Linked DNA regions of Homo sapiens: all the other regions are linked to region 5. Evidence: fine-mapped expression QTL. A gene starts in region 5. Each other region holds a variant in brackets. All regions are shown on one strand. Distances are from middle to middle.

Region 1 (5,000 bases), 600 kb before region 5:
GTATAGGGACCTAGCTCATCCTCCCAACTGAGAATTGAGAGCCCCTCCCTAACCTGTGGAATCCCTCACCCCATATCTCCCAGGTTCCTGGGTCTGGTGGGGAGGGCACTGGAGGATTGGGGGCCAGCCAGATGCACTCGACAGTGTCAAACTTCTTTGCAATTAATGCAGTTAGTCTGTGGTCAGGGATGTTCAATAGCCCGGGAATACAGGCCCTCCTCTAGCAGATCTTTGAGAACTCCCAGATGATGCAGAATGTGATCTCAGCTCCCTGCATGGATAGCATGATGCAGATGCTTACCCAAAACCCTAACTTTGATGCTTAGATGCCACTTTTTTGGGGAATCCCTAAGTGCAGGAGCAGCTCTGCCTGCAGCTCTCAGTCTTCTTGTAACAGATGCAGAATGTGGAGTCACTCTCACTTTTTGTCAATTCTTGCAGATGCTGTTGTAGATACAGCAGGGACTGGAGACTTAGTGGACTGAGGCTTCTGGCTGGTACCCAGCCTTGATTTCTTTGGGATGTTTCAGACTCCAGCACCCTTGGCAGACAGCAGCTTCAGGTCTGTGCCCAAGTCTCCCAGCTCTTTCCCAGCCATGCCAGGCACAACTTCCCTAACAGGTCTTCTGATGCCCAGCAGTAGTTCATGAAGTAGATGACCCAGCTTTTGGCTGGATGTGGAAACTCACTGGTGCAGACACTAGAAGTGAAATTTCAGCAGCAACTGCAACTGGAGCAGCTCAACAACATGAGCTCAATGGTGGGGCCAACCTGTAGGCCCTGATTGCCAAAGGAGAAGACAGCAACTCAGCTATTGAGAGACTCCTGAGCTCCCTGCTCTCTTATTCCCTTCGCCTGTGCCTCCTGCCTCTCCCTCACTTGATGCTAGCATTCGGTTCCTCTGTCACATCTTATCCTCTGCAGTTTTCTGTCCCTTCTCTCTTCTCTCTCGTCCTCTCCAAACAGCTGAAGTGACTTTAGAGGCATGAGCCCCAACCCTGTAGGTCTGAGCATTTTGGTTTTACTGTGTGCCTCTAACAGAATCTTCTCTCCTAGTCCTCCCTGAGCAGAGCTATTTAAAAATTTTTCACAATTTTGATTGGTCCTGCTTCCTTGTCCCACACCACCTTTTACAATCTTCAAATCTCTCAGTGGCAGGCACAATCAAAGAAGGAACCAACTATCTAGCTTTCTGAAACAGGGTCTTCCATCTGTACCACTAGGTAGGGTTTTGTTCATCTCATGTTTACTTTTGGTAACTCTCTTCCTCTGTCCGTACCTCCTCTCACTGCCCACCCACTCCTCAGCCTAATTAGTGGTAGAATTCACACTCTGAAGGAAGGGTAAGTGAAACAGGCTCCTCAGCCCCTATTCTGGTCACTTCATCCAGTACTCTTTCATGGGCTCTGTTAGGACTCCCAGGGCAAAGAGGAAGATACCTGTTTCCCTTTCTGAAGGAGGAGATAAGACACAGCTCTCTGGACAGGAATTGAGAAGCTCTGGACCAGCCCAATGGAGATTGATGCAGAAGAAGAGAGAATGAGATTTTTCTGGAGGAAGCAAATGGGGAAAGACAGCCTGAGTATAAGGCTGGGAAGTTGGAAGTGACAGGGAGTGAAAGCATAATAGCTCTCTCAGGCAGCTGAAACCAGGCCTGCGTCTGGTAGAGGAGACTTGGAGATGCTGATGGAACTGGAAGAAAGGGGCTCAGTGAAGCTAAGTGTATGGCCCACAAGTGGTCATATTGGCTCCACTTCCTCAAAGACACATGTTTATGCACATGTGGGTACATGTGCATACACGTGTGTACACACACACACATACACACACAATTCCGTGAACCCAGGACCTGCCTGTGTTTCCACATCTTTAAAATGGGAAAACAGCAGAATATACTTTAAGGTTGTGAGGGTTGAGTGAATGTATATGAAGTGCTTAGAGGGCCATGGGAACAGTAACCATTATTATTGCCTTGCATAACAAGGACATTGTCCCTCCCTGAAGGGGAGAATAATGCTTAATTTTCATTCTTATTTTCTTTTTGGAAGGGTAGAAAAGAGAACGGGAGTTGAAAGTGTTATTCCAGATAAAAAATGAAATACTGCCACTCTTCTATAGCTGAGAATACTATATTAAATACTTGAAATTTGCCAAGAGAGTAGATCTTAAATGTTCTTACCACAAAAAAGGAAGACAATTATGTAAGTTGAGGTGATGAATATGTTAATTACCTTGATAGTGGTAATCACTTTATAATAAATATGTACAACAAAACATCACATTGAACACCATAAATATATACAATTTTTATTTATGAATCCTACCACGATAAAGCTGGTAAAAAAGAAGACAACAGCAACAAACAGCCACTGTCATTCTTTCAGACATTGGGCCCCTTCAGTGCTTAGGAGAAGATGATTGTAAAAATCTAGACTTCTTCTCAAGACAGATTAAATATGGATTTGTGCTAAACCCTCACTTCTTCAGGGATTTTCTGAATATCATGCACACAGAAAAATACTGCTGTGCCTTGTGAAGTTATGGGCTCATATGAGAACAATTATTTACAAAGTTGATGTGGAATCATTTTTAATGTTGTATATGATCAGAGAAGATGCTGGCGGGTTGCTTTTAATATGTGATTTTTCAGATTTATAATAAAGGTTTCTTTTTTCTGAATTTTCACTATTCCTCATTTTACACTGCATGAAGAAATACACATAACTCAGTTCTAATCCTTTAACTCTCAGAGAAAAAATTTCCATGTCAGTTTTGGAAGTTTCCAAGAAATGGTGTTTCTTCTGAGAGGCTAAGAGCACAGCTTGGGGCAATTTAATACACAAATGAACAGATAACGGAAGGGAGTC[A/C]TGACAATGCCATAGTTCTGTAAGTAGCAAATAACTTTCCTACAATTAGAAGGTGCATGATTTATGGTGACAGTCACTGAGAAAATAAACAGGGAGACTGAAAAACCCTGGGTCCCACAGGGGAGGATGAGTGTGGGAGCAATGGAGGGTAAAAATCCCCAAAGAGCTGGATAATCCCTGTGTTAGGACATTATGTGTTGCTGTTTAATACCTGAGGCTGGGCAATTTATAAAGAAAAGAAGTTTATTCAGCTTACGGTTGTGCAGGTTGTACAAACATGGCACCAGCATTGGCTTGGCTTCTGGTGAGGCCTCAGGAAACTTTTAGTCATGGTGGAAGGAAAGGGGAGCAGGCACATCACAAGATAGAGGCAGCACATGTGGGGAAGGTGCCACTGTCTTTTAAACAATCAGATCTCATGTGAACTCATTACCACTCATTACTGGGGGGAGGGCACCTAGCTATTCATGAGGAGTTTGTCCCCATGACCCAACACCTCCCACTAGGCCCAACCTCCAACACTGGGCATCACATTTCAACGTGAGATTTGGAGGGGACAAACATCCAAACAATATCAAGCTCCAAGCTCTAGCATGCTAGCCTAGAGAAATAACAATCCCTAGAAGGGATTGTCATTTAAACAAGGTTAAATTTGTACAAATATGGTAACGCTATTTTAATCTCCTTGCATTAATGGAAAGCTTTTTTTCCTCTGATAATATTTCTTTTCCACCTTTTTCTAATGGGAGAAGATTGGAAAGTAGAGACCCATGGAGAGTTATCTCCTGACATCATAAGAGTTAATCTTGGAAGATTGTCTGTTTGTCAGGAGATAACTCTCCATGGGTCTCTTGCATTTCTGTGTATCTTGTGAGTAGAGGCACTGGTTGCCTTTGTTTCAGATTTTTTGTTCAAGGATGTTTGTATAGCAAACAGCCTTGAAAGATAGCAATAAAGACAGTATCTCCCTGCAAGGAAAAGAGCAGATATGCTTACAGTTTGGGAAGGTAGAGATGGATTTTTACTTCAGAGCAAAGGCAGGCATTTTACTGCACTGATGATTTATTGCACATTATAAAATATTTGGCTTCCTGAAGCTCAGGGTCCCTCTCCTATAATTCAACTCACTGCATGTGCAGGTGTTCCCTGGCCCCTTTCACATCCCCCTGGGGAAGCTGGGTCAACCAAACTGACACAAGAAAATAAATGATAACCCTCTGGCTACTGTTATCACTGTGACTAATAAAGTCCATTGTCTCTGACCTAGGAGGCTATGTCTTCTGCCAGTATCCATGAAACTGTGCTAGGCCAATTTCCTGTTTGCAAATAGGGTAAAATTTCAGACCCTTCAAGATTCTTCTTTTTCTCACAAAAGTTACATTATGTTTTTCGTTAACTGCCTGATACACCTCTAAAATATGTCTTTTCCTACACACGAGGGGAGTTGATAAAGTCTGTGGAAGAATGGAATTAAGAGCTGCAAATAAAAGTTGTGAACTTTATGTCTCAACATAAGCTCCATCAAGGTCAACACACTTCTGTAAGTGATGATCCCAGCCATTTAGTCCATTTTTTTTCATTTAGTCCATCTATAAAGAACTGAGGGTCCTGAGAATTTAACCATGTCACTGCAGTCTTTTTACATTATTAACTGAAGAAAAATGGATACCCCTTTAAGATTAGGAAACAAAAACCAATCAGAAGGAGCCAAATCAGGACTGTAAGATGAGTGCCTAATGATTTGCTATCAAAACTTTTGCAATATTGGCTATGTTTGATAAGAGAAATGAGCAGAAGCATTGTCATGGTGGAGGACTCTCTGATAAAGTTTTCCTGGGTGTTTTTCCGCTAAAGCGATGGCTATCTCAAACCACTCTCCTAATAGCCAAATATTATCATCCTTTCGTCCTTTAGAGAGTCCACAAGCAAAACATCTTGAGATCTCAAAACATGGTTGCCGTGAAGTTTCCTCTTGATCAATTTGCTTTTGCTTTGATTGGACCACTTCCATTTTTTGGTACCCATTGCTTTGATTGTGCTTTGTCTTCAGGATTGTATTGGCAAAGCCATGCTTTATCTTCTGTCACAATACTTTGAAGAAATTCTTTAGGATCTTGATCCCACTTATTTAAA
Region 2 (5,000 bases), 45 kb before region 5:
CCTAGGCAACAGAGAGAGACTCTGTCAAAAAAAAAAAAAAACAAAAAAAGTTGACATAATTAGGTATACTGTATTTTACTAGGACAATTTTTACTGATGTTATAGTTGCCTAGTTTAAGTTAATAACCTAATTTTGCCCTTTCTTTTTTGTCTTAGGCCTTGAGCATCTTTCCAGATTTTTTCTGCTGAGCTCACCATTATTTTGGCTTTGAAACTCAGTGTGATAGAGGTGATCGTGAGGCATGCCATGTGTAGATGTCTTTCAGCTAATAAATGACCATCCTAAAATTGAGCTTGTCAATAGTGGCTTTTCAGATGAGAGCAGGGACAGAACCTCACCTAGGTATACACTTGGCTTGATTTAAATTACAATTGCACAAAAACAGCAAAGAAGTTAGCAGTAGTTTTGCCCCTTGGTTCTCGAGACCATGTTCATCTGATTACAAAAGACACAGCAAGTGCTGCTCAACCTCCTGCTCCCTTTCTAGGCTTCTAGCCCCTCATTTTGCCTCACAGGAGAGCTCTACTGGACAGACAATTAGCATGGGATTGGAGGCCATTCTCCAGCTTTCTGCATCTGTCAAATGATGGAGAGGGTTTGCCTTTTTCAGATCTTTGTGAAAGGGATCACCCATTTCTTTTAAACATCTAATATATTTCACACAGAATGGCTATAAAAAGTAATCAGTTACATGTATAACACCATTGCTTTCTCAACAATCAGTGAAGACAGTTGAATTTACAGCCAGAAGACAATCACATTATATTGGACCACATATTCATACTTCATTTATTTCTCCCTCAAGTATTGCAGCTGTAATAGCTCCTAGGAAGCTTTAAAAAATATGCAAGAACATTTTAAACTTCCAGGAACACTCAGACTTCAAACTACTTTTTCTTCTTGTATAACATCTTTAAATAATTAATTTTTTTGTTTCTTTTTTAGTGTTCTGGTTTGGGAAATATTAAGATAACTGGAAATGGGAAAAAAAAGGAGAAGGAATTTGTGATTTTTCAATTTCCATGAAATCAACAACCTTGCTTCCTAGAGTGGATTCTTACAGAGGTCAATAGTACACTTGTGTGTTGTTGAAAATTGTTAACACTCCTATCTAAAAGCCACAGGATAGTATTCCAAAGACTGTGAACAACAACTCCAGGGCTCCCAGGGATCCTCAGTTGCTGTTACCACCAGTGGATTTTTTTCAAAAGCATTTTTAAGAAATGGTCATAAGCAGGAATCAAATGGTTTGGAATGAATCTGTTTTGTTGGAAGAAGGGGTTTAATTAACTTTCGAGCTGCACAAATTAATCTGGACTTTAGTGAGGGCCTGAAAATTGATTAAAATGTGAGCACCTTTTCAGAAAGTATTTGACCAGGAAATAAATTCATTTCTTCAAGGTCAGTGACCCTACAAGTTGACAAGTGATTCAGATTAATACACACTTGGGTTTCAAGTTTCACCTATTGCTTGGCAGAAGCTTCTGCCCCATCCCCCACCCCCAGTGCTGCTTGTCATCCACCTGATCTAGTTGTCACCTTTTCTTCTGGACTGTTTTTCTGACAGAAACCCTTTGCAGAGTTTTTGGCTGGGGGGTGGGGAGGTGGTTGGGGGGCATTGCAATCAGTGCAACGTTTCATTTTAGTTGTTTTATTGAAGATTTAATCAACATTATGATTTAAAAATAAGGCAGAAAATAACTTCACCTAGATTAAACTTACCTCTTAAAGATAATAAATGTCCATCAAACAGAATGATTTGTAAAATAGTTTCATAAAATCCTACTTGATTTAATGACCTACCTAATTTTTGCAGTGTCTTTTATTTTTTCTTCTTGGGGGCTAAACACACATAACACGCACTCATGCACGTGCACACACACACAGGCATATACATAGACACTCCAAGCATTTGGAGACTCTCCTCTATATTATCTAGTAATACAAGCTCAGAGGTCAAGCCTTACTGTAAGAGAATATGGAAATAATTAGAGAAATTTTGTGTGAGAGTAAATGAAGAGACTATTTATTCTAAGAAGAGAGGAAATTGTAAAAATAAAAAGTCTCATCATTGATTTCAAAGGAGAACTTGAAACAGGATTCAATCTTG[C/T]TACCCTCATTTAAAAAATAAGAAATTGTGGTCTTAGAAGGTTCTGATCTACCACATTCTTTCATAGTTCACATGAAGTGGCAATGGGATGATTTAAGGTGTTTTTATTTCCCCTTGATTTAATGTCAAGTATAATTTAGTGGACAATTATATGTAACACCTTTGATAATTAATTTTCCACTCCAAATTAGGCTTTGGCAATCCTCTTATCCTGGTGTCATTATTCTTATAGAATACTGTACACGTTAACTTTGTTTTCTTTTCTCATTCCCTATTAATGCTTGTTTTTTCAAATAAATATTAACTATTCCACATAACTTCTAAGTAAAGTTTCAGACTTTAATAATACATTTTTTTAATTACAGAGTCAGCATATTCTTTGCAAAAAAAATCCTTAGCAAATACCTAGAGAAGGTAGAGTTTAGCGGAGCAGGAATTTTCTTCATCTTTTAAATTAAAAAATTGAACCAACTCTCCATGTACTTCAACAACTTTTTACCCTCAAAAGAGAAGAGTTTTAACATCATTAAATCCGAACATATATTTGAAAAAATTAGAAATAATGGCCTTATCAGATAGTTACTTATACTTTTTTTTAATTTTATTATTATTATACTTTAAGTTTTAGGGTACATGTGCACCACGTACAGGTTTGTTACATATGTATACATGTGCCATGTTGGTGTGCTGCACCCATTAACTCGTCGTTTAGCATTAGGTATATCTCCTAATGCTATCCCTCCCTGCTCCCCCCACCCCACAACAGTCCCCGGTGTGTGATGTTCCCCTTGTTGTGTTCATGTGTTCTCATTGTTCAATTCCCACCTATGAGTGAGAACATGCGGTGTTTGGTTTTTTGTCCTGGCAATAGTTTGCTGAGAATGATGGTTTCCAGCTTCATCCATGTCCCTACAAAGGACATAAACTCATCATTTTTTATGGCTGCATAGTATTCCATGGTGTATATGTGCCACATTTTCTTAATCCAGTCTATCATTGTTGGACATTTGGGTTGGTTCCAAGTCTTTGCTATTGTGAATAGTGCTGCAATAAACATACATGTGCATGTGTCTTTATAGCAGCATGATTTATAATCCTTTGGGTATATACCCAGTAATGGGATGGCTGGGTCAAATGGTCTTTCTAGTTGTAGATCCCTGAGGAATCGCCACACCGACTTCCACAATGGTTGAACTAGTTTACAGTCCCACCAACCATGTGAAAGTGTTCCTGTTTCTCCACATCCTCTCCAGCACCTGTTGTTTCCTGACTTTTTAATGATCACCATTCTAACTGGTGTGAGATGGTATCTCATTGTGGTTTTGATTTGCATTTCTCTGATGGCCAGTGATGATGAGTTTTTTCATGTGTTTTTTGGCTGCATAAATGTCTTCTTTTGAGAAGTGTCTGTTCGTATACTTTGCCCACTTTTTGATGGGGTTGTTTGGTTTTTTTCTTGTAAATTTGTTTGAGTTCATTGTAGATTCTGGATATTAGCCCTTTGTCAGATAAGTAGGTTGCAAAAATTGTCTCCCATTTTGTAGGTTGCCTGTTCACTCTGATGGTAGTTTCTTTTGCTGTGCAGAAGCTCTTTAGTTTAATTAGATCCCATTTGTCAATTTTGTCTTTTGTTGCCATTGCTTTTGGTGTTTTAGACATGAAGTCCTTGCCCATGCCTATGTCCTGAATGGTATTGCCTAGATTTTCTTCTAGGGTTTTTATGGTTTTAGGTCTAACCTGTAAGTCTTTAATCCATCTTGAATTAATTTTTGTATACTGTGTAAGGAAGGGATCCAGTTTCAGCTTTCTACATATGGCTAGCCAGTTTTCTCAGCACCATTTATTAAATAGGGGATCCTTTCCCCATTTCTTGTTTTTGTCAGGTTTGTCAAAGATCTTATAGTTGTAGATATGCGGCATTATTTCTGAGGGCTCTGTTCTGTTACATTGGTCTGTATCTGCTTTGGTACCAGTACCATGCTGTTTTGGTTACTGTAGCCTTGTAATATAGTTTGAAGTCAGGTAGCGTGATGCCTCCAGCTTTGTTCTTTTGGCTTAGGATTGACTTGGCGATGCAGGCTCTTTTTTGGTTCCATATGAACTTTAAAGTAGTTTTTTTCCAATTCTGTGAAGAAAGTCATTGGTAGCTTGATGGGGATGGCATTGAATCTATAAATTACCTTGGGCAGTATGGCCATTTTCACAATATTGATTCTTCCTACCCATGAGCATGGAATGTTCTTCCATTTGTTTGTATCCTCTTTTATTTCCTTGAGCAGTGGTTTGTAGTTCTCCTTGAAGAGGTCCTTCACGTCCCTTGTAAGTTGGATTCCTAGGTATTTTATTCTCTTTGAAGCAATTGTGAATGGGATTTCACTCATGATTTGGCTCTCTGTTTGTCTGTTATTGGTGTATAAGAATGCTTGTGATTTTTGCACATTGATTTTGTATCCTGAGACTGCTGAAGTTGCTTATCAGCTTAAGGAGATTTTGGGCTGAGATGATGGGGTTTTCTAGATACACAGTCATGTCGTCTGCAAACAGGGACAATTTGACTTCCTCTTTTCCTAATTGAATACCCTTTATTTCCTTCTCCTGCCTGATTGCCCTGGCCAGAACTTCCAACACTATGTTGAATAGGAGTGGTGAGAGAGGGCATCCCTGTCTTGTGCCAGTTTTCAAAGGGAATGCTTCCAGTTTTTGCCCATTCAGTATGATATTGGCTGTGGGTTTGTCATTGATAGCTCTTATTATTTTGAGATACGTGCCATCAATACCTAATTTGTTGAGAGTTTTTAGCATGAAGTGCTGTTGAATTTTGTCAAAGGCCTTTTCTGCATCTATTGAGATAATCATGTGGTTTTTGTGTTTGGTTCTGTTTATATGCTG
Region 3 (5,000 bases), 180 kb before region 5:
CAAAGTGTGATCTATGGACCAGTATCTCACTAGCACCAGCATCACCTGGGAGTTTCTCTGTGAGAAATGCAGAATCTTGAGAAAAATTCCAGACATACTGGATCAGGATCTGCATCATAAGAAGATTCTCAGGGATTTACAGGCACATTGAAGGATCAGAAATAGTGGTATAAACCTCAGCGTTGAAGGCTAATAAAATGTCTCCTAAGATGGAATGAGAAACAATTGGGACTTGGTACATCTGACTTTTGGTTTTCCCTGAATCAAGTCTGCTGAATTCTCATTTCTCTGTTTGGCATAGCAAGGGTCAAGGGCTACACATTAGAGCGCCCACTCAGTCTTTGACTGTGTGTCAACAAGCTTATGGAAAATGCTGCTCCGCTCTCCAGACTGCAGGAGTGAGGCCCATCAGATAGGAAAACTCTAGCTATCTTGTTATCTCTGCATTCAGTCTGCTACACAAAACTGAACCCTGTGATAATCCTGATCAGCATTAAGAACTGAAACTTGAGGAAAGAGAATTTGAGTAAGTGGAAAATTCTAGAAAGGGGACCCCAGGAGGGAATGGAAGTTATCAACCAACACAGGTGCCTGGACCTCCCATTCCTGGAGAATTTCTGTTTCCAAAACTGTAATAGTGAATAGAAGGCTACCTGTTGAGCTTAAGATACCGAGAAAATACTTCTGATAATTGGCACCTACCTTGCAAAATTAACAACTTCCTTATCCCTTTTGTGAATTTCATATTTGTTTCAGAAAATCCAAGTGTTTCAAATATTCATAAATTCCAGGGTTTAATGTCGTTTTAGTAATTAGAAGTTCATAATGGAGAGAGAAAACAGCAGATTTCTTATACTGTTTCCAGTATGTGATTCATACATGACAGGTCACCTGTTAAAAGCTAAGTGAAATTGCCATTATACTCAAGTGGCAGGATATATTCCTGACTGACGCAGAATGAAAGGGTGTGATTTAAAGGGCCAGATAGAAACTGTGTTTCTAGTAGTTACTTGAAGAGACAGCATATTTTCACTTTAGTCTAAAATATTGTGATAGAAAAGAGAAATAAATGTACATGGAAATAAAACTTGTAAAAATACTGAGCAAAAATGGATTCTCAATTTTTTTTTATCAAGGAAAAGCATTGATTTACTCATGTTAAATGTTTTTCTTTAAAAAAAATTCCCTGCTTATGTAGCTCCCTAAATCACAGGAGAACCAAGCAGTCATGATGTTTCCCATAGGATCACATGATTTATATTTAATTTCAAATACTTGGTGCTTTGAAATCTTTTAAAATTAATCTTAAAGCACACATATAAAAATAGAATGGAAGAGAGTATATTCCATCTCCTTTGAGGAAAAAGAATTCCTAACAAAGCAATCAGACTCTAGGATGCCATCAGCACACCTTTGAAAAGTGAAAGCAGACAGTATTAAACTTTTAAAAGCTTACTTTGAAGGAATGTGGAATTTGTTAATATCATTTTAGTGAGGAAGAAAAGAAGAGACTGTGTTACATTATTTATTCCAGGATCTTTGAAGGCAGCTGCTTTTTTTCTTTTCTCAGCTGGTTTGTTTTAGTGTTAATGAGCATTAAACTCATATATCAAAGACAGAATAACAAACCTTTAAATGTCAACCCAAAAGAGATCTTTATTTTTCTATTTGCAACTGTGAAGCAGTGAGGATAATTTAAGACACGAAAATGTGAAAAGTTACCTGAACATTTATAAAGAGAAAACTGGAAGAGGCATAAAATTGCAGAGTAGTTTTGAGAGAAAGAATTTTAACTGTGTATTCAGCACACAACAGGGAGGGAAAAGAATACTCCCTTAAGGGATTGACAAGGTAGAGTTAGAGACATGCAGTAAAAATTTAGAAATGTAGCCCATTATATTTGTCTCTGAAATGATAAGTGTGAACATTTAGGCACTAACTTTATTGTAATGTACAAGGATGAGCTGACTGATTTGGAAAGCAAAATTTCAGGTTTACAAATGATACTAAATGAGAAAAGAAAGTAAATAATGAGCAGTCATTCAGGCTCCACTAAAG[G/T]ACTAAATTGTTGCAGTGCAGTTGCTGAGGCTAACAATAGTGGATGTGCTGAGTTTAGGGCAGAGTTAAATATTCCTTTTGTAGATAGCAAGAGCAGGTCTCTCTGAATGAAGGTGTCACAATGTGCTGACTGAAAAGAGGTTTGAATTAGAAAAATCCTTCAAACTGGGTGATTCAACAAATCCAATGGAGAGAGAAAACATTATGATTCAAGAATAGAATACACACCTGGGCATAAAGGAATTCTTAGGAGTTCTTGCAGCTAAACTAGGCTGGTTCTGAGCATGTAATTTAGGAGAAAGTTGGAATGTACTCATACAAATGAGCAGGTTATCTCAGAGAATTAAAGGTGCGCCTTCTTTCTCCCAGGACCGAAATTTTGTTACTGCTGCTTCTGTTGTTATTCTGGTTCTTCTTTACCTATCACTACTATTATTTCTAAATTTGATTACTTTTTTACTTCCTTGATGCTTAGGTGGCCTGTGACTTTAACGGTGGAACATGAGTTGAAAGTGTGCAAATTAGGGTGTAACTGTGCAGAGAAGCCATGCAGATCACACACTCAAAGACAGATGTACATATCTACGGACTATCAGGTCACCTTCGTGACCGGACTGAAGATCACATGACACCTCCTGCTCAAACCATCTGTCATTGGGACTGATATTCCACTATTAAAGATTCAGTTCCTGAAGACATTTTTAGGTCTTACAGTTACCCAAGTGCAGCAAATACTATAAGAGTGGTGATCTCCTATGTCAGAGTGAACTCAATGTTAGCAGGAGATTAATGAATAATTGTTATATTTGCCTTCTTTGGTTGCTAGTACAGCTTCTCACATTTACAAACCCCTGTTCTGTTAGGCACTCTGAATTCCTTACCCTTGATAACAAGAAAGAATCCAATAGAAAATTCACTTTGAGCTGTTAGTGATTCTTTTTATGGTTTCTGCTATCCAGAATAATGTATCTGCAAAGAAGAGAATAGAGGACAGAAAGATGGGGTAATGCTTAACCAAACCCAAGGAATAACTTATGAAAACCTTTCAAGCAGTTTAGCACTTGCAAGAGAGAGATAATTTGGAATAGTTGGGAGCTCCCCTGATATTCTTCAAATAATTCTGTCTCTGTATTCATGAGTATGTTACTGGAAGGTAAGATCAATACTTTATGAAAATTACAGTCACATTTTCATAAAGGAATAGATATTTTTTCTTACAATTCAATGATTTTCTAGGTTGTCCATTTTACTCTCAACCCTCAAAAGCAAGCTGATTTTGGAGCACAAACGTAAGACATCTTTGAAGACAAATGTATTCCCCACTCCATACCAAAAAATATAATGCAATCCAAATCCAAATAATAGAATTTTGAATAAGGTTTCTTTTGTATTTTATGTGACAGAATTTTTTCCTTTAGACTAGGTAAAGGAGGATATGTCATAGTACAAAGAATATTGATGACAGAAAATTGTAGGAAGATATAAGAACGAAGAAAAATTTTGTTGAGAAATTATTTGCAACGTTGTTTCAGAGCACAGTCATCTTTTATTTTGTTTGCTTTTAAGAATTCTGAACTAGGATGCTGCCAGGAAACAACACACTCAAACTAGGTACTTGAGGGGAATTGAATGAAGAAATCACTTATAAAAGAATGGGTGGGGCTTATAGGGAAATTCAAAAGGGATATTGCAGTACTAAAGGGCTAGCAATAATAGGAACTGTTAGTCAACCCAGACCTGAAGGGGCAAGGAAGAAACCAGAAAGAGAATCTTCACAGCCAAGGCTATCTGACAGCCCTATAGCCTTTTTCGAAGATGCAGCAGAGAGCTGGAAAAATAAAATCCTTAGCCAGTCTCTCTCTCTTCCCATCCAGTGATTTCCTTTTCCTCTTTCTCTTTGGAAAACCCAATGGGAAGCCAAAAGTCAAGGGAGCTTGTGGACACAATCAATACAGATCAGCCCTTTGGAGCAGAGCTTGGTGGGAAAAGGCAGGGAGCAGACCTTGAGGGCTGAATGGAGGATCTCCAACACAGTTGCTCGTTGGCATTGAATCAAATTTTCATTCAACCACTTTCAATTTTTATACCTGAATTGTTCATTTTTCCATATTTGTAGCATTTCAGCCATCTGCCCATTGGTAGTCTTTTGTTCTCATTCTGTCCTTGACAATTTCACAAGATTTGCATTGCCTTATCACCCACTAACATCATCCCGTGGTGCCGAGTACAGCCACAGTTGCCACCGGTAGGTCTCAAATTGAGGCAATATTCTGACAGCTATTCCTGGATTCCACAGCTGTTCTAGAGCTCAGAAGGGCCACATTCCACAAGCTGTTAGGAAACAGCTAATGTGTTCTCAAATTACTGTTACTGAGATTTTATATCAAGAAGGAAAAGTGGGTTGGTTACTAAGGAACAGGTGAAGAGAAGAAACAATACTTCAAATTGTGCTTTAGTTTGCGCTCCCCTAGTTAGGTGCAATAAGAATTAACATGGGTAGGTTCCCCACTTTCTTCTCTCTAGAATCCTGTGATAGTCGAATTTTTCTCACTCTCTCAGCTCCTTTAGAGGGAGTGTTTTTAATTGATATGAGAGATGTTGGGTCAAGCTACAGTATACGGTAAAGGAATTGCAGAAGGGTGAAAAAGAAAACAATACTTATGTGAGGGCTGGATGTACAGGGAAAGCTGGGATAATTGTGACAAGACTGTCTGAAGCATCTGGAGTTTAATGGAAATGGACAGGAAAGCAAAGGGGATTGCTGAGGACTATGTATTTGGAGCCTTATCATTTTTTATGTAAGCAAATATTTTGAGTTTTGGTTAAAATTCTTATTTGCTGACTACATTTCCTCAAACCAATGTCATTACTTTGAATCAAGACTACATAGATAACAATTTGTAAAAGCTACTCTTTTGGAGGTTGTGGGACATAATTCTAGA
Region 4 (5,000 bases), 26 kb after region 5:
TTGGCCAGGCTGGTCTCAAACTCCTGACCTTAGGTGATCCACCTGTCTCGACCACCCAACATGCTGGGATTACAGGCATGAGCCTCCGCACCCGGCCACCTCCTTTGTTTTTCCCAAGGAGTCCCTGGACATCAGAAGTTATCTTAGGGCTTCTCATATGTGCATTAAGAGAGCCAAGATAAAATGGAGAAAAATAATTCAGTCGACTGAGAAGAAAAAAACTTTTTTTAAGAAAAACAAGATCCACAAAGAGAAAAGACATAAAGGCTTTTGAAATATAACTACAGCTTGGCTATCCGCTTTTAATTAAGCTGGCTTTTAACCATAGCACTCCTTTTAAAATAAGTCCTTTTAATTCTCTTATTACCCAACCTTAGCCACGCCAAATGGCCAATACTTCTGGCTTTTGAACTCACGGAGGGGCAGAGAATACAGTAATTTTTACCATTCCTACAACCAGTTTGCACAGAGAGAGACAAAGCAGAAGTCTGACTAGTAAGAAAAGTTAAAAAAAATTATTTATTTTTTGTGAGGCATTTTATTTATTTATTTAAATTTATTTTTATATTAATAGGTTTTTGGGGGAACAGGTGGTGTTTGGTTACATGAATAAATTCTTTAGTGGTGATTTCTTAATTTTTAGTGTACCCATCACCCAAGCAGTGTACACTGTACTCAATGTGTAGTCTTTTATCCCTCACCCAACTCCCACCCCTTCCCCCAAGCTCCAAAGTCCATTGTATCATTCTTAAGCCTTTGCATCCTCATTACTTAGCTCCCACTTATGACTGAGAACATGCAATGTTTGGTTTTCCATTCACAAGTTACTTCACTTAGAATAACAATTTCAAATTCCATCCAGCTAGCTGCCAATGCCATTGTTTTGTTCCTTTTTATGGCTGAGTAATAATATTCCATGATATATATACCACATTTTCTTTATCCACTCATTGATTGATGGGCATTTGAGCTGGTTCCATATTTTTGCAATTGCAAATTGTGCTGCTATAAACTTGCGTGTGCAAGTCTCTTTTGTGTATAATGACTTCTTTTTCTCTGGGTAGATACCTAGTAGTAGGATTGTTGGATCAAATGTTAGATCTACTTTTAGTTCATTAAGGAATCTCCACACTGTTTTCCATAGTTGTACTAGGTTACATTCCCACCAACAATGTAAAAGTGTTCTTTATTCACTGCATCCACACCAACATCTACAATTTTTTGATTTTTTGATCATGGCTATTCTTGCAGGAGTAAGGTTGGTATCACATTGTGGTTTTCATTTGCATTTCCCTAATAATTAGTGATGTTGAGCATTTTTTCATGTTTTTTGGCCATTTGTATGTCTTCTTTTGAGAATTGTCTATTCATGTCCTTAGCCCACTGATGTGATTTTTTTAAATTTCTTGCTGATTTGTTTGAATTCTTTGTAGATCCTGAATATTAATCCTTTGTCAGATGTGTAGATTGTGAAGATTTTCCTCCACTCTGTGGGTTGTCTGTTAACTCTGCTGATTATTTCTTTTGCTGTGAAGCTTTTTAGTTTAATTAACTCTCATCTATTTATCTTTGTTTTCGTTGCATTTGCTTTGGGGTTCTTGGTCATGAAGTCTTTGCCTAACCCAATGTCTAAAATGATCTTTTCAATGTCATCTTCTAGAATCCTTATGGTTTCAGTTCTTATATTGAAGTATTTGACCCATCTTGAGTTGATTTTTGTATAATGTAAGACGATGAGGATCCAGTTTCATTCTCCTGCAGTGGATTGCCAATTATCCTAGCACCATTTGTTGAATAGGGTGCCCTTTCCCCACTTAATGTTTTTGTTTGCTTTGTCAAAGATCAGTTGGCTTCATTTCTGGGTTCTCTATTCTGTTCCATTTGGTCTATGTGCCTATTTTTTTTTTAAATAATTAATTTATTTGAGACAACGACTTGCTCCGTTGCCAAGGTTGGAGTGCAGTGGCAAAATCTCAGCTCACTGCAACCTCTGCCTCCTGGGTTCAAGCTATTCTTGTGCCTCCACCTCCTGAGTAGCTGGGATTACAGGTGTGCACCACCATACCCGGCTAATTTTTGTATTTTTAGTAGAGACAAGGTTTCACCCCGTTGGCCAGGCTGGTATCAAACTCCTGGCCTCAAATGATCCACCCACCTCGGCCTCCCAAAGTGCTAGGATTACAGGTGTGAGCCACTGCACCCAGCCTATGTGCCTATTTTTATACAAGTACCATGCTGTTTTGGCAACTATGGCCTTATAGTATAGTTTGAAGTTGGGTAATGTGATGCCTCCAGATTTGTTCTTTTTGCTTGGTCTTGCTTTAGCTCTGCAGGCTTTTTTGGTTGCATATGAATTCTAGGATTTTTTTTTCTAGTTACATGAGGAATAATGGTGGTATATTGATGGGAATTGAGTTGAATTTGTAGATTGCTTTTGGCAGTATGGTCATTTTCAGAATATTGATTCTACCCATCCACAAGCATGGGATGTGTTTCCATTTGTTTGTTTGTGTTGTTTGTGATTTCTTTCAGCAGTGTTTTGTAGTTTTCTTCTTAGAAA[C/T]CTTTCACCTCCTTGGTTAGGTATATTCCTAAGTATTTTATTTTTTGCTATTGTAAAAGGGGGTTGAGTTCTTGATTTGATTCTCAGCTTGGTTGCTGTTGGTGTATAGCAGAGCTACTGATTTCTGTGCATTAATTTTGTATCCTGAAACTTTGCTGAATTCATCTACCAGTTCTAGAAGCTTTTTGGATGAGTCTTTAGAGCTTTCTAGGTATACAATCATATAATCAGCAAACAGCAACAGTTTGACTTTCTCTTTACCAATTTGGATGCTCTTGATTTCTTTCTCTTGTCTGATGGCTTTGCCTAGGACCTCCAGTACTATCTTGAATAGAAGCGGTGAAAGTGGGCATTTTTGTCTTGTTCCAGTTCTCAAAGGGAATGTTTTCAACTTTTCCCCATTCAGTATAATGATGGTTGTGGGTTTGTCATAGATGGGTTTTATTACCTTAAGGTATGTCCCTTCTATGCCGATTTTGCTGAGGGTTTTAATCATAAACGGATGCTGGATTTTGTCAAATGTTATTTCTGTGTCTATTGAGATGATCATATGATTTTTGTTTTTAATTCTGTTTATGTGGTGTGTCACATTTATTGATTTGCAGATGTTAAACCATTCCAGCATCCCTGGTATGAAACCCACTTGATAATGATGGATTCTTTTTGATATACTGTTGGATTTGGCTAGCTCGTATTTTGTTGAGGATTTTTGCATCTATGTTCATTAGGGATATTGGTCTGTAGTTTTCTTTTCTTGTTATGTCCTTCCCTGGTTTTGGTATTAGGGTAATACCGGCTTCATAGAATGGTTTAGGAAGGATTCCCTCTTTCTCTCTCCTGTCGAATAGTGTCAGTAGGATTGGTACCAATTCTTCCTTGAATGTCTGATAGAATTCAGCAGTAAATTAATCTGGTCCTGGACTTTTTTATTGGCAATTTTTTAGTTCCCATTTCAATCTGGCTGCTGGTTATTGGCCTGTTCAGAGTTCTATATCTTCCTGGTATAATCTAGGAGGGTTGTATATTTCCAGGAATCTGTCCATCTCATTTAGGTTTTCTAGTTTATGTCCATAAAGATGTTTATAGTAGCCTTGAATAATATTTTGTATTTCTGTGGTATCAGTATATCCCATTTCATTTCTAATTGAGCTTATTTGGATCTTCTCTCTTCTTTTCTTGTTTAATCTCACTAATGGTCTATCATTTTATTTATCTTTTCAAACAACCAGCTTTTTGTTACATTTATCTTTTGTATTGTTCTTGTTGTTTCAGTTTCATTTAATTCTCTGCTCTGATCTTTGTCATTACTTTTCTTCTGTTGGGTTTGGGTTTGGAATGTCCTTGTTTCTCTAGTTTTGTGAGATGTGACCCCAGTTTGCTCTTTCAAACTTTCTGATGTAGGCATTTAATGCTATGAATTTTCCTCTTAGCACCACTATTGCTGAGGTTTTGATGGGTTGTGTCACTATTATTGCTCAGTTCAAATAATTTTTAAAAATTCGTTTCATTGTTGACCCAATGATCATTCAGGAGCAGGTTACTTAATTTCTATATATATATATGCATGGTTTTGAGGGTTTTGTTAGGAGTTAATTTCCAATTTTATTCCATTGTGGTCTGAGAGAGTACTTGATATCATTTTGATTTTCTTAAATTTACTGAGACTTGTTTTGTGCCTTATCATGCGGTCTATCTTGGAGAATGTTCCGTGTGTTAATGCATAGAATGTATATTCTGCAGCTGTTGGTAGAATGTTCTGTAAATATCTGTTAAGTCCATTTGTTCTAGGATATAGTTTAAGTCCATTGTCTCACAGTTTACTTTCAGTCTTGATGACCTGTCAGTGGAGTATTGAAGTCTCCCACTATTATTGTGTTGGCATTGATCTCATTTCTTATGTCTTGTAATAATTGTTTTATAAATTTTGGAGCTCCAGTTTTAGGTGCGTATATATTTAGGATTGTGATATTTTCCTGTAGACTAGAACTTTTATCATTATATAATGTCCTTCTTTGTCTTTTTTTATTCCTGCTGCTTTACAGTTTGTTTGATATATGAATAGCTACTCCTGCTTGCTTTTGGTGTCCATTTGTATGGAATATCTTTTTCCACACCTTTACCTTAGGTTTACGTGAGTCTTTATGTGTTAACTGAGTCTCCTGAAGACAGCAGAAACTTGGTTTGTGAGTTATTATCCAGTCTGCCATTCTGTATCTTTTAAGTGGAGCACTTAGGCCATTTACATTCAATGTTAGTATTGAGATGTGAGGTACTATTCTATTTGTCATGCTATTTATTGCCTGAATACCTTTTTTTCATTGTATTATTGTTTTATACGTCCTGTGAGATTTACTGTTTAAGTAGGGTCTATTTTGCTGTGTTTCCAGGATTTGTTTCAATATTTAGAGCTCTTTGAGCAGTTCTTGTAGTGCTGGCTTAG
Region 5 (5,000 bases):
AAATAGAACATTGCCATTTCTTGTCCTGTCGGTTAGCAAAAGTAGATTGCTTTCCAAGACTCCTACTGACTACCTATTGACTATCTCTTGACCCTGCCCCCTGCCCAGATACCAAAACAACAAACAAGCAAACAAACCCTTACCTGTTTAAAAGACAGGAACAACAAGCAAAACTTCAAAATCCTCTTTTCTCAATCCTGATATCCATTAGAATTCAAAAAACCATCCTAGGTTGTGATTTCTAACAAGGTTTACTTGAGAGCGAAATGGACACTTAATAGTGGATATGACATTAAAGGCACTCAAAACTTTTGATCCCAATCTTTGAGTCGTTAACATTGTTTACACCAGTTGTGCTTCTTTCTGAGTAAATGGAACACTTTATTATTATTTGATTTTAGTTACTCTTATAGCTGCCATTGTGAAGTCTTTGAAATTTTAATTGCTATATAGCATCCTAGTGGATTCTTTATAGTCTTGAAAATATTTAGGATCCTGTCTCAGGCATAAAAATAAACTGCTCAAAACCTTTTGTCAAGTTTATGCTCGAAGCTATTGTATCCTTTGGGTTATTTTCACAGGCACGGTTTTTAGGCGTTTCTTTCTAACACTGTTGAATTTCTGAACCTTAAATGTGTCAACGGCCATCTGTAGTTCTACTCCAAATATCCTTCCCAGTTGGGGTTGTAATACTCATCTCCCACATTCAGGACCTCGGCTAACTCCTCTCAACCCTTTGCCTGGTCTGGGGCATACTAAATTACAAAGAACAGGCTGAATCTTTTAACGTGGTCTTTTTGCTAGAAAAAGTAATATCACAACGACAGTAATGCATCTCATGTTTTAGTAACAATGGTTTACCCTAGGGAGCATTAACGTCACTAACGTCACTGTGTACCTTAGCAGCTACTTTTCCTCGCATTTTATAATTCCCCTTCCCTCCGCCCCCCGGCCCCACCCGTGGGCAGCATCCCAAAGCCGCCTGGCTGACGTTGGTTAGGGTAGAGACGCCCTCCCTAAAGGCTGTCCAAGCCGTCTCTTCCTTTCATTAGCGGTGTAATCCTGTGTTCCCGCCGGAGCCTGGCACGGAAGTGTAATCTTCCCGCGGGGGCCCTTCTGTCGTCTCGCCTACCTGAGAGCTGAGACTAAATGAAATATAAAATATTCACGATAAGAGGAAACAAAGGATGCTGCCTCCAGGACGGCTACTGTGCCTGAGGCTGGGCTCCTTCTCAGTCATCCCAGGGCCTCTCCGTCTGGCCCCACCCTCGCCCCTCCAGGGGATCCACAAGTTGAATCGCAGCTCTCCAGGGTTAATTGCCCTGGCCGGGAGCCAGACTCCTCACCGCCGCCCCGTTCCCCCCTGCTGGGGAGCGCAGAATGACCACCAGGAGGCCAGGAACAAAACGCTTAAATGTTGCATTTATTAAGGAAATGTTAAATAAGAAAAAAACAAAAAGTCAAAACGGTGTCACGGATGTCAAGAGCACTTTTGTGGCGTAAACCGTGCAGTCACGAGCTACGAGTTCTATTCTGGGTCTTTGTCCCAGGGCCAGCAGGAACGCTAGACGCCTCCCAAAAGACCCAGTGGGAAATGCACTAAAAGAAACAACTCACCCCGTTCAAATTCGCAGGCTCCCCCTCCCCCCACCCCTTCTCCCACAATGACAAAACTGTAACTCCTCAGGCAGGCAAACAGGCCACTGGGGCAGAAAAAGACTTATCAAACATTTGTATTCAAGCAAACAAACACAAAACCTCTTAAAACGGCACGTTACAATCAAAGGTATTTATCGCCCCTCCCCTCCAGGGCAGGGGGGGAGCAGGAGAAGAGTGGGAGCGCACCCGGACACGGATTTGTGAGACCCCATGAGTCTGCTGCGTGGCTTTTAACAGGTCACTCTTCCGGTCACAAGGCGATCAGTGCCGCTGGGTCTCTCCCCTGCCCGCCCTCTCCACCTGCCCCCAGAGCTTGGCCCACCTGCGGGTGGAGAAGGGCCTTCGCACCGTCGGTCTCCCCGCATTCCAAGTAAGTAGCAGCTTCCAAAGTTCTGCGCCCTAATCGCCCTCTTCTTGCCACTTTCTGCTGAGTTCAGAGTCTGGGCGCTCTCCTCCGACTGCCAGGCATGAGGACTTTCAGAGGGCGAGGGAGAAACCGGTCGCTTCTTTCCGAAAGGCCGAAGTCGAGAGAAATAATTGACTCCGACAGGTTTGCTTCGCCCAGTCTCTGATAGTGAGGGGCACAGCCGGGCTAGCAAAGTGGGCAGGCGTGGGAGCGGTTGCCGCGGGGGCAGAGGGCGGGTCAGTAGGGCCCCACGACCACCGCCTCCACCTCCTTAGACGGCCTCCGGTCCTTCACGAGGAAGTTGATCATGCCCTCGGACTTGATGAGCAGATTGCAGCCGAGGAAGAAGATGCCGAAGACCACGGTGAGTGAGAGCACGCACATGACCGCGATCTGCACCACGCGCATTATGTACAGGCTACGCTCGTCCGGGCCTCCCTCCGCGAAGCCGTCGTCGGTCACCACGGACGCCTGGGTGCAGCAGCGCACGGCTCGCTCCAGCGCCTCGCTGCTGTTGGCCAGGAACAGGCCCGCCACGTCCGTCTGGTTGCCTAGGGCCGGATTCATCGCAGGAACGGGCGGGCGCCGCGAGCGGCGCGGGTCCGAGGGGTGGGAAGGCGGCGGCGCTGGAGGAACAGGTGCCGGGCTGAGCGCTCACTCGCAGACTAGCGCGTGCGAGGGCTCCTCGCTCTGCTTTCGAAAGTCCCTGGGCCGTGGGAGTTTCCCAGGAGCCTCTCCGACGCGCGCAGCAGCTAGGCTCTTCTAAAGCCGTCCGCTCCAGCCCTGGTGGTGCTCGTTCCCGGCGCTCGCTCGAGGGGGGGCTGTTGGAACTTGGCGGGGCTGGACCAGCCCGGCCGTGGGAGGTGCGGGCCGCGGCGGCTGCAGCGGCGGGGTGGCTGCGCTGAGCAAACAGCGGCCCCTTCCGGCCGCACCGCCGCGCTGCGCGCTGCTCTTGGGAGGTGGAGGAAGCAAAGGGGCGAACCTGGTCTTGCTTTTTATTGCTTGCTTCTTTTGCAAACTCCAAAGGCCAGGCAGAGGTCACTGTACTCTTCTAGCTTGATGGATGATTAAAGAGTTTGTCGGGGGAGGGTGCGGTCAGCTGAAAGTTTCAGAGGAACTGGGACACACGAGCTCTGCGTGTCCTTTGCCTGCTGCCCCCCTGACCTCTGGGCGAATGGAAAGTGGCGATGAATCGCAGGTGCCAGATGGTGCCGGCTGAGGCCACCCGCCCACTGCCTGTGCTTGACTCCGACTCGCCTGCGTTGGATTTCTAGTGGAGTGGAGGTGATCTGAGAATGTTTCTTACAAAGCAATGAATTTGGAAAGACAGAAAGGCATGGAAGAAGGAAGGAAGAAAGGAAGGAAGGAAAGAAAAAAGGAAGGGAGGGAGAAAGAAGAGCTCTACACCCAGCTTCCTTTACAAAAGCGATTGGGAGACAGAGCAAGGCAGGTTTTACCGTGAGGTTTGAGGCCAAGGAAAGAGGGTTAGAGGAAGGAGGAGTTCTTCTGTGGCCCTTGGGTGGAGGTAGTTGCCGGGAGCAGGGTCACCTCTCTGGTAAAGGAGGTGAACAGAGTGACCACTTGCTTGTAATTTTAATTGCAGATAAGTTTTTGGATGTGCTTCCAGCATTTTGTCCGTTGGCAGTAAATCAGTTGTTGAAGGGAATTGCTCATCAACATCCATCACCTAGAACGCTGGCCAAATACTGGGAGCCCTCCCCATTTTCCATAAGCTGATGTATTTCACCCTTAGTCATTTAAACTAAACACAGATGTTTTTATAGGCCTGATTGACGCTTCAGCCATTGTGATTTTGCTCTAGGTTCCAACGAAATTCTATAAACCTGTCAGATTAAGTTTCTTAACTCTGAAAGAATATTGCATGTTCCCGCTCCCCCTTTTCTGTTTTCTTTCCCCTCCCTCCTTTTCCCCATTACTCCCTGCCTTCCTCCCTCTTTCTTTCAGCTGTAACAGCTGGAAACCAGTAACTTGAGCTTCCAATAGAATACATTTACTTTCTATTAAATGTTCTCACCACAAAGAACTGATAAAAATTTGAGATAATGGGTACGCTAATTACTCTGATTTGATCATTCCACATGTATATGTGTATCAAAATATCACTTTGTACCTCATAAATATGTACAGTTGTCAATTAAAAATAAAATAAAACTGAAAAATAGTAGCTGTCTTGCCATTTTCAACTCTACTCTTAATTTCATTCTGTTTGCTTGGTAAATCCTCTTATTTCTGTTTCTTAAAACATCATTTATTCCATCTTCAGAGTGTTCCTTAAATGTTTTTGCACTGCTTCATGACTATCATAAAATAGAATGAAATGCCTTCTGGTTGAGTTTTCAATTTTTTGATATTTATGGTATATCAGCTGCAATAAGTTTGATTTTTTAAAATAGCTATTATTATTTTGAGGGGGATGTTTAACAGCTGAAAATTCAGGCTTGGGCTTCTACCACAATTCACTGGCTTATTGTTCTAGTTTCCCATAATTTAATTAGAATTGAAAAATACCTCACTCTCGGCAATTTCTTCTTTGAAGAAATTTATTAATAATTGATAAGTAAGAATTTACTTAAATCTCATCATACAATCAGTCTATCTTAGTTAATGTGGGTAGTCCTCAAGAATAATAAAACGTAATGTATACATGGAAAAAATTACAACAAATTTAAGGCAATATAAAGTCATCCTGAGATGAATGGTAGAGAAAAGTAATAGAAATTTAGAAAAATAAAAGGTCAGAGAACAGAGGCCCACCTCCAGGGATCAAGTTGTACAGAACTGTGTGTTCAGTAGAAGTTAGGTGTAAGCAAATGGAGAGCCCCTTCTTTATGTGACAAAAACCAAGAGTTAGTTTATAGTACATTTGTAAGATCCAATATGGAAGGATGCTAAAAGTGTTAGTTGAATCATTATC
Region 6 (5,000 bases), 60 kb before region 5:
TATAAAATTAAAACTGAATTTGCAAATTTTTGAACAACACACAATGATATGAAACAATGTTCACCATATGAAATTGAATTACAAAAGCAAGAAGTGAAATAATATAGAGTGTAAGATCTCAGTTTTGCTAAAATGGACTTTAAAATTTACTGTAAACTAAATACACAAAAATAGAAACCTTTCTGTGCTGATAACTGTTTCTGCTGTGAGAATAGGGAAAACTTTCTCTATTTTTCTTATGTTTCTCTGTCTATTGTCAATCTAAGCTAGTTTTAAAATGAACAGAAGTTATTTCTATAATCAGAAAAGAATTAAGTAAATGTTGTTTACAAGATGAAGTGAAAAGAAAAAAGTTCTGCCATAGCAGCAGACACAACCCATTTAAAAGTGTTTAATCATTCTAGGTAATTGTTTAAAGAAAGTTGCCTATAAATAAACAAGCCTACCACTAAATCTACTGAAATTAGGCCCTGTGTTAGAGTAAGCATATGAATGTTGTTGGTAATTACAGTGGCACAAAAGCAGTCCTCTGGTTTTGTGGTTTATGATTCATAATCATTTATTTTTTTATTCAATATTAAGAAATACTCTGAAAGTTACTATTGTCTTAAGAAAAAGAAAATGTACTTGTGTAGTCTTTGAAAAAGGCAATGTCCAAAGCCATGTGACTGCTTCTGTTTTATGAGAGAAACCCACAGTGTCTCATAGGTCTCTTCCAGACACACTGGAATGGTGCCAATGTAAGAATATTAACAAAGAACAAGCACTGAGCCAAATAATTTAATTATCATTTGTTGACTTCGTCCATCTAAACTACATGAATCTTTATCCCAATGACACAAAGGCATCATTTCACTAAAGCTGATGAATAACTGCTTACATATTTTCCCACTGAATACTTAAATTTTGTCTTGTTCATTTGCATGGTTTTTATAGTTTTGGTTTGTTCTTGCTGTTTTGTATGTTAAAGGCATTCAACTTTTGTCTATCAAAGTTGTGGCAAATATTTTCCTAGACTGCTGATTACCATTCTGTTTATGGTATTTTTTGTAAAATACAGAAGTTAGTTTTTTAGAGGGTTATATCTATTGGTGTTTTTCTTTGTGAATTCTGCTGATTGTATTAGTTGATTCAACAAATATTTATTACATACTATGTGCCAGATACTCCTCTATGTGATATGATACAACAGTGATCCAAAACACCGAATACTCTTGCCCTCATGGAGCTTGCACTCTTACAGAAGGAGACAGACAATTAACAATTAAAATACATCCAACTTTTGTAGCACCTGAATCCTGAATCAGTTGTGGGCTGTCTTTAAGAAAAAGAATACAGGACCTTAGAAAGGGACCATGGAAGTGAAGGGCTTCTGAGCATATCGCATGGGAATGAGTGATATGGAGACAAATAAAGTGGAGGAGAAAGATAGGAAGTGCTAGGTCAGAAGTAGGGATCACAAATTTTTCAGAGAAGCCTCACTGAGAATGTCAAATTTGAACAAAGACCAAGAGGAGGGACAGAAGCACACAAAGAGGATATCTGGGGAAAAGCATGGTAGGAGAAGAAAAGAGACAGTGCTAAATCCCTACAGGGAGAGAATGCCAATAATGTTCCAGGAATGAAAAGGAGGTGGGTAGGGCTGAAACAGAGAAAGCCAGAGAAAAATAATAGAAGATGAGTCATAGAGGTACCAAATGAAATTATGGGAGACGGGGAGCAGATGATGTAGGGCCTTGCAGGCCCAGTCAATTTTCTTGGTTTTCTCTCTCTCAGAGTGAGAGGAGGTCACTAGAGGTGAAATGATTTAACTTATGCTTTCACTTAGATTGATAGGTTAAGAATAAACAGTAGGGAGAAAGAATGCAAATAGAGAGATGGATAAGGAGGATATTGCCATAATCCAGGCGAGAGATCATGGTGGCTTGGATGAGTCTGCCTGGGGAATGTGAGGAAATATAATTTGTTTTTGAATATGTCTTGAAGATGGAACTATCAGGATTTTCTGGTAAAATGGATGTAGATTGTAAAAAAGGAGAGTCTATGGGTGTTGTTC[T/C]AAGTAAATATGGAACTTTAAGTTTATTGAAATGAGAAATTCTTTTAGAGAATAAGCTTTTCGGATACAAGACAAATGAGAAGTTCCACTTGGAGTATATTAAATTTGAGATGTCCATTGGATATACGAAGTAAGATTGTCACACATGCAGTTGGAGCTCAGTAGAAAAGTCCAGGATGAATATATACCTTTAAACATCATCAGCATATACTTGGAACTTAAAAGCCATAATATCAGATATGAGTCATATAAATCACTGTAACAGTTAACACGAGGAATAAGCATAGAAATGGGAAGAAACAATCAGAAGATTGAGTCCTTGAAGGATGCCAATGTTTAGGTTAGAAAGATGTGGGAGAACCAGCAAGAGAGAATGTGGTAGGCAGCAAAATGGCCTTCCAAAGATGCTCACATCCCAGCCTTTCAAAACCTGTTAATATATTTTGGAGAGATTGTCCTGGAGTATCCAGGTGGACCCAATGTAATCAGAATACTGCTCATAAGAGGGAGGCAGGAGGATCAGAACCAAAGACAGAGATGTGATGACAGAAGCAGAGGTCAGTGAGGTAATATGATTGCTAGAAGGGAGGCACAAGCCAAGGAATTCAAGTAGCCTCTAGAAGCTGCAAAAGACAAGGAAACAAATTCCCCCCTAGCACCTCCAGAAGGTTTGCCACCGTGATATTAGCTCAGTGAAACTCCTTTTGCAGTTTTGACCTCCAGAACTGTAAGATAAATTTGTGTTGCTTTAAACCACTAAGTTTGTTGTAATTTGCCAAGAGAGGGATAGGAAGTAAATGCAGAGACTGAGAAAGGAGTAGTTAGTGAAGTAAACAGATAGATAAGAGAGTGTCATGTCACAGGGGCCAAATGAGGAAGTGTTTCAAGAAGGAAGTAGAATAATGGTCATTTGATAAACTATGTCAAATGCTGCTTATAGGTCAAGTAAGATAAAGCCTGAGAAATGAACATTGTTTTTAGCAACATGGAGGTCACGGATGACCTTGACAGGAGAAGATTTGGTAGATGGACTATAGAGAAAGCCAAATCAGAATTGGCTTCGAGAGAGTGGAGGGTAGCCGGGCATGGTGGTGCATGCCTGTAGTCCCAGCTACTCAGGGGGCTGAGGTGGGAGGATGGCTTGACCCCGGGAGGCAGAGGTTACAGTGTGCCAAGATCACACCACTGCACTTCAGCCTGGGCGATAGAGCCAGACCTTGTCTGAAAAGGTAAATAAATAAATAAGGTAAAATAAGGGAGAGTGGAAGGAAGGAACTGGAGAAAGAATTGCTGTGGAGTAGTGACTGCTATGTGCTTCCTGTTTTTCCCGTTTTTGAATGAGAGTCTCTTATCTCCATACCATAGATTAAAAAGAAACAACTATTAATTCATACAATGACTTGGATGGTGTATTAGTCCATTCTTACATTGCTATGAAGAAATACCCGAGACTGGGTAATTTTTGAAGGAAAGAGGTTTAATTGACTCACAGTTCCTCAGGGCTGGGGAGGCCTCAGGAAACTTACAATCATGGTGGAAGAGAAAGCAAACATATCCTTCTTCACATGGTGGCAGCAACAAGTGCCGAGCAAAAGGGGCTTATAAAACCATTAGATCTTGTGAGAACTCAATCAGTATCATGAGAACAGATGAGGGAAACTGTCCATGATTCAATTATCTCCACCTGGTCTGTCCCATGACACGTGGGGATTATGGGAACTTCAAAATGAGATTTGGGTGAGGACACAGCCAGGCCATATCAGATGTTCTCAAAGGATTTATACTGACTGAAAAAGGCCAGTCTCAAAAATCATATATCCTCCGTGATTCCACTTATTTAACATTCAAAAAATGGCAAAATGATAGAGACAAACAAGAGGTGAATGTTTTTTAGGGATTAGGGAGGGAAGTAGACAAGGAAAGGGTGTGAACAATGAAAGGAGTCCTTGTGATGGAACTGTTTTGTATTGACTATTGTTATAGTTACACAAATTTACATGTGATAAAGCTTCATGGACCTAAATACATGCACACACACATACACACACTACATGAATGCATGTAAAACTAGTGTAAATGGAATTAAGGTCAACAGTTTATATCATTGTCAATTTCTGGTTGTAATATTTACTTTAGTTATGCTATCACTGGGGGAAACTAAGTGAAAATTAGTTTCACGTGAATATACAATTATCTCAAAAAGTTAAAAAGAATGGTAGAAATACACCTAAAGTAAATTGACTAAATTTGCAAGTTAAATGGCAAGACTTCTCAAAGTGGATTTTAAAAAAGTAGTCCATCTATATATAGTTTACAACAGACCTACCTAAAACATAAAGACACAAAATTATGAATGTGAAGAAATGGAAAATTATATTTGAGGTAAATATAAGCAAAGAAAGATGATGTTACTTCTTATAATAATGTTTAAGAAATATATTTTGAAGCCAAAGCATTATTGGGAAAAAAGGTTACAGAAAAATAATAAAAGGAGCAATTCACCAGTCTGCATATACATTTAGTACATATAAGGACTGTAAAGAACAGGTATACAGGACATTATGAACGTTTTTAATGCCACTGGACCTTATGCTTAAAAATGGTTAAGATGGTAATTTTATGTTATATGTATTTTTACCACAATAAAAAGAGAAATTGTAAGGTTGATAGATTAGAAATCTGTACTCAAGAATTAAAGCATTTTCATTTTTTAAACATGTATGACACTATTAAGAAATAACATATTTTGGCATAAAATGAGTCATACAGATCATGCTTCTGCTGATAATTCAAAAAAATTTAAAAGGAAAAAATATAGCAAATATGATCTCCATGTATATGGAAATTTTATTTTATTTTATTTACTTCAAGCCTTTAATTTGAGACATGATGGAAAAATCTTGTAGGCACACTTGGAAAAGTCATGATTACCGCTGAGTGAAAA

Direction of the effects. Alleles are on the strand shown, and positions count from the first base shown. SD is a standard deviation of normalised expression in the study named. Not every link is listed here.
For the expression in adrenal gland of the gene that starts at base 2,829 in region 5, A is the low allele of the variant in region 1 and C is the other (small effect, 0.34 SD a copy in GTEx).

Evidence for each region. PIP is the estimated chance that this variant, and not a neighbour inherited with it, causes the effect.
Region 1: its variant is the best candidate, but not a certain one, in a credible set for the expression of RPRM in adrenal gland (GTEx, PIP 0.85).
Region 2: its variant is the best candidate, but not a certain one, in a credible set for the expression of RPRM in whole blood (TOPMed, PIP 0.56).
Region 3: its variant is the best candidate, but not a certain one, in a credible set for the expression of RPRM in whole blood (INTERVAL, PIP 0.67).
Region 4: its variant is the best candidate, but not a certain one, in a credible set for the expression of RPRM in whole blood (TOPMed, PIP 0.63).
Region 6: its variant is the best candidate, but not a certain one, in a credible set for the expression of RPRM in whole blood (INTERVAL, PIP 0.83).

The regions. Positions count from the first base shown.
Region 1 is chr2:152,877,689-152,882,688 of GRCh38, forward strand. It overlaps the pseudogene UBQLN4P2. Among named protein-coding and RNA genes, the nearest start is that of ARL6IP6, 160 kb to the left of the region's middle. The variant A/C (reference allele first, on the strand shown) is at 2,868.
Region 2 is chr2:153,431,122-153,436,121 of GRCh38, forward strand. It overlaps a transcript of GALNT13 not described here. Among named protein-coding and RNA genes, the nearest start is that of RPRM, 45 kb to the right of the region's middle. The variant C/T (reference allele first, on the strand shown) is at 2,112.
Region 3 is chr2:153,295,676-153,300,675 of GRCh38, forward strand. It overlaps a transcript of GALNT13 not described here. Among named protein-coding and RNA genes, the nearest start is that of RPRM, 180 kb to the right of the region's middle. The variant G/T (reference allele first, on the strand shown) is at 2,059.
Region 4 is chr2:153,501,535-153,506,534 of GRCh38, forward strand. It overlaps a transcript of GALNT13 not described here. Among named protein-coding and RNA genes, the nearest start is that of RPRM, 25 kb to the left of the region's middle. The variant C/T (reference allele first, on the strand shown) is at 2,561.
Region 5 is chr2:153,475,934-153,480,933 of GRCh38, forward strand. RPRM (reprimo, TP53 dependent G2 arrest mediator homolog) reads right to left here and starts at 2,829. Exons shown (of 1, transcript NM_019845.3): 1 at 1,405-2,829. The coding sequence starts at 2,632. The coding sequence ends at 2,303. It also overlaps a transcript of GALNT13 not described here. RefSeq lists enhancers at 996-1,499, 1,500-2,003, 2,004-2,507 and a silencer at 2,864-3,063.
Region 6 is chr2:153,415,578-153,420,577 of GRCh38, forward strand. It overlaps a transcript of GALNT13 not described here. Among named protein-coding and RNA genes, the nearest start is that of RPRM, 61 kb to the right of the region's middle. The variant T/C (reference allele first, on the strand shown) is at 2,057.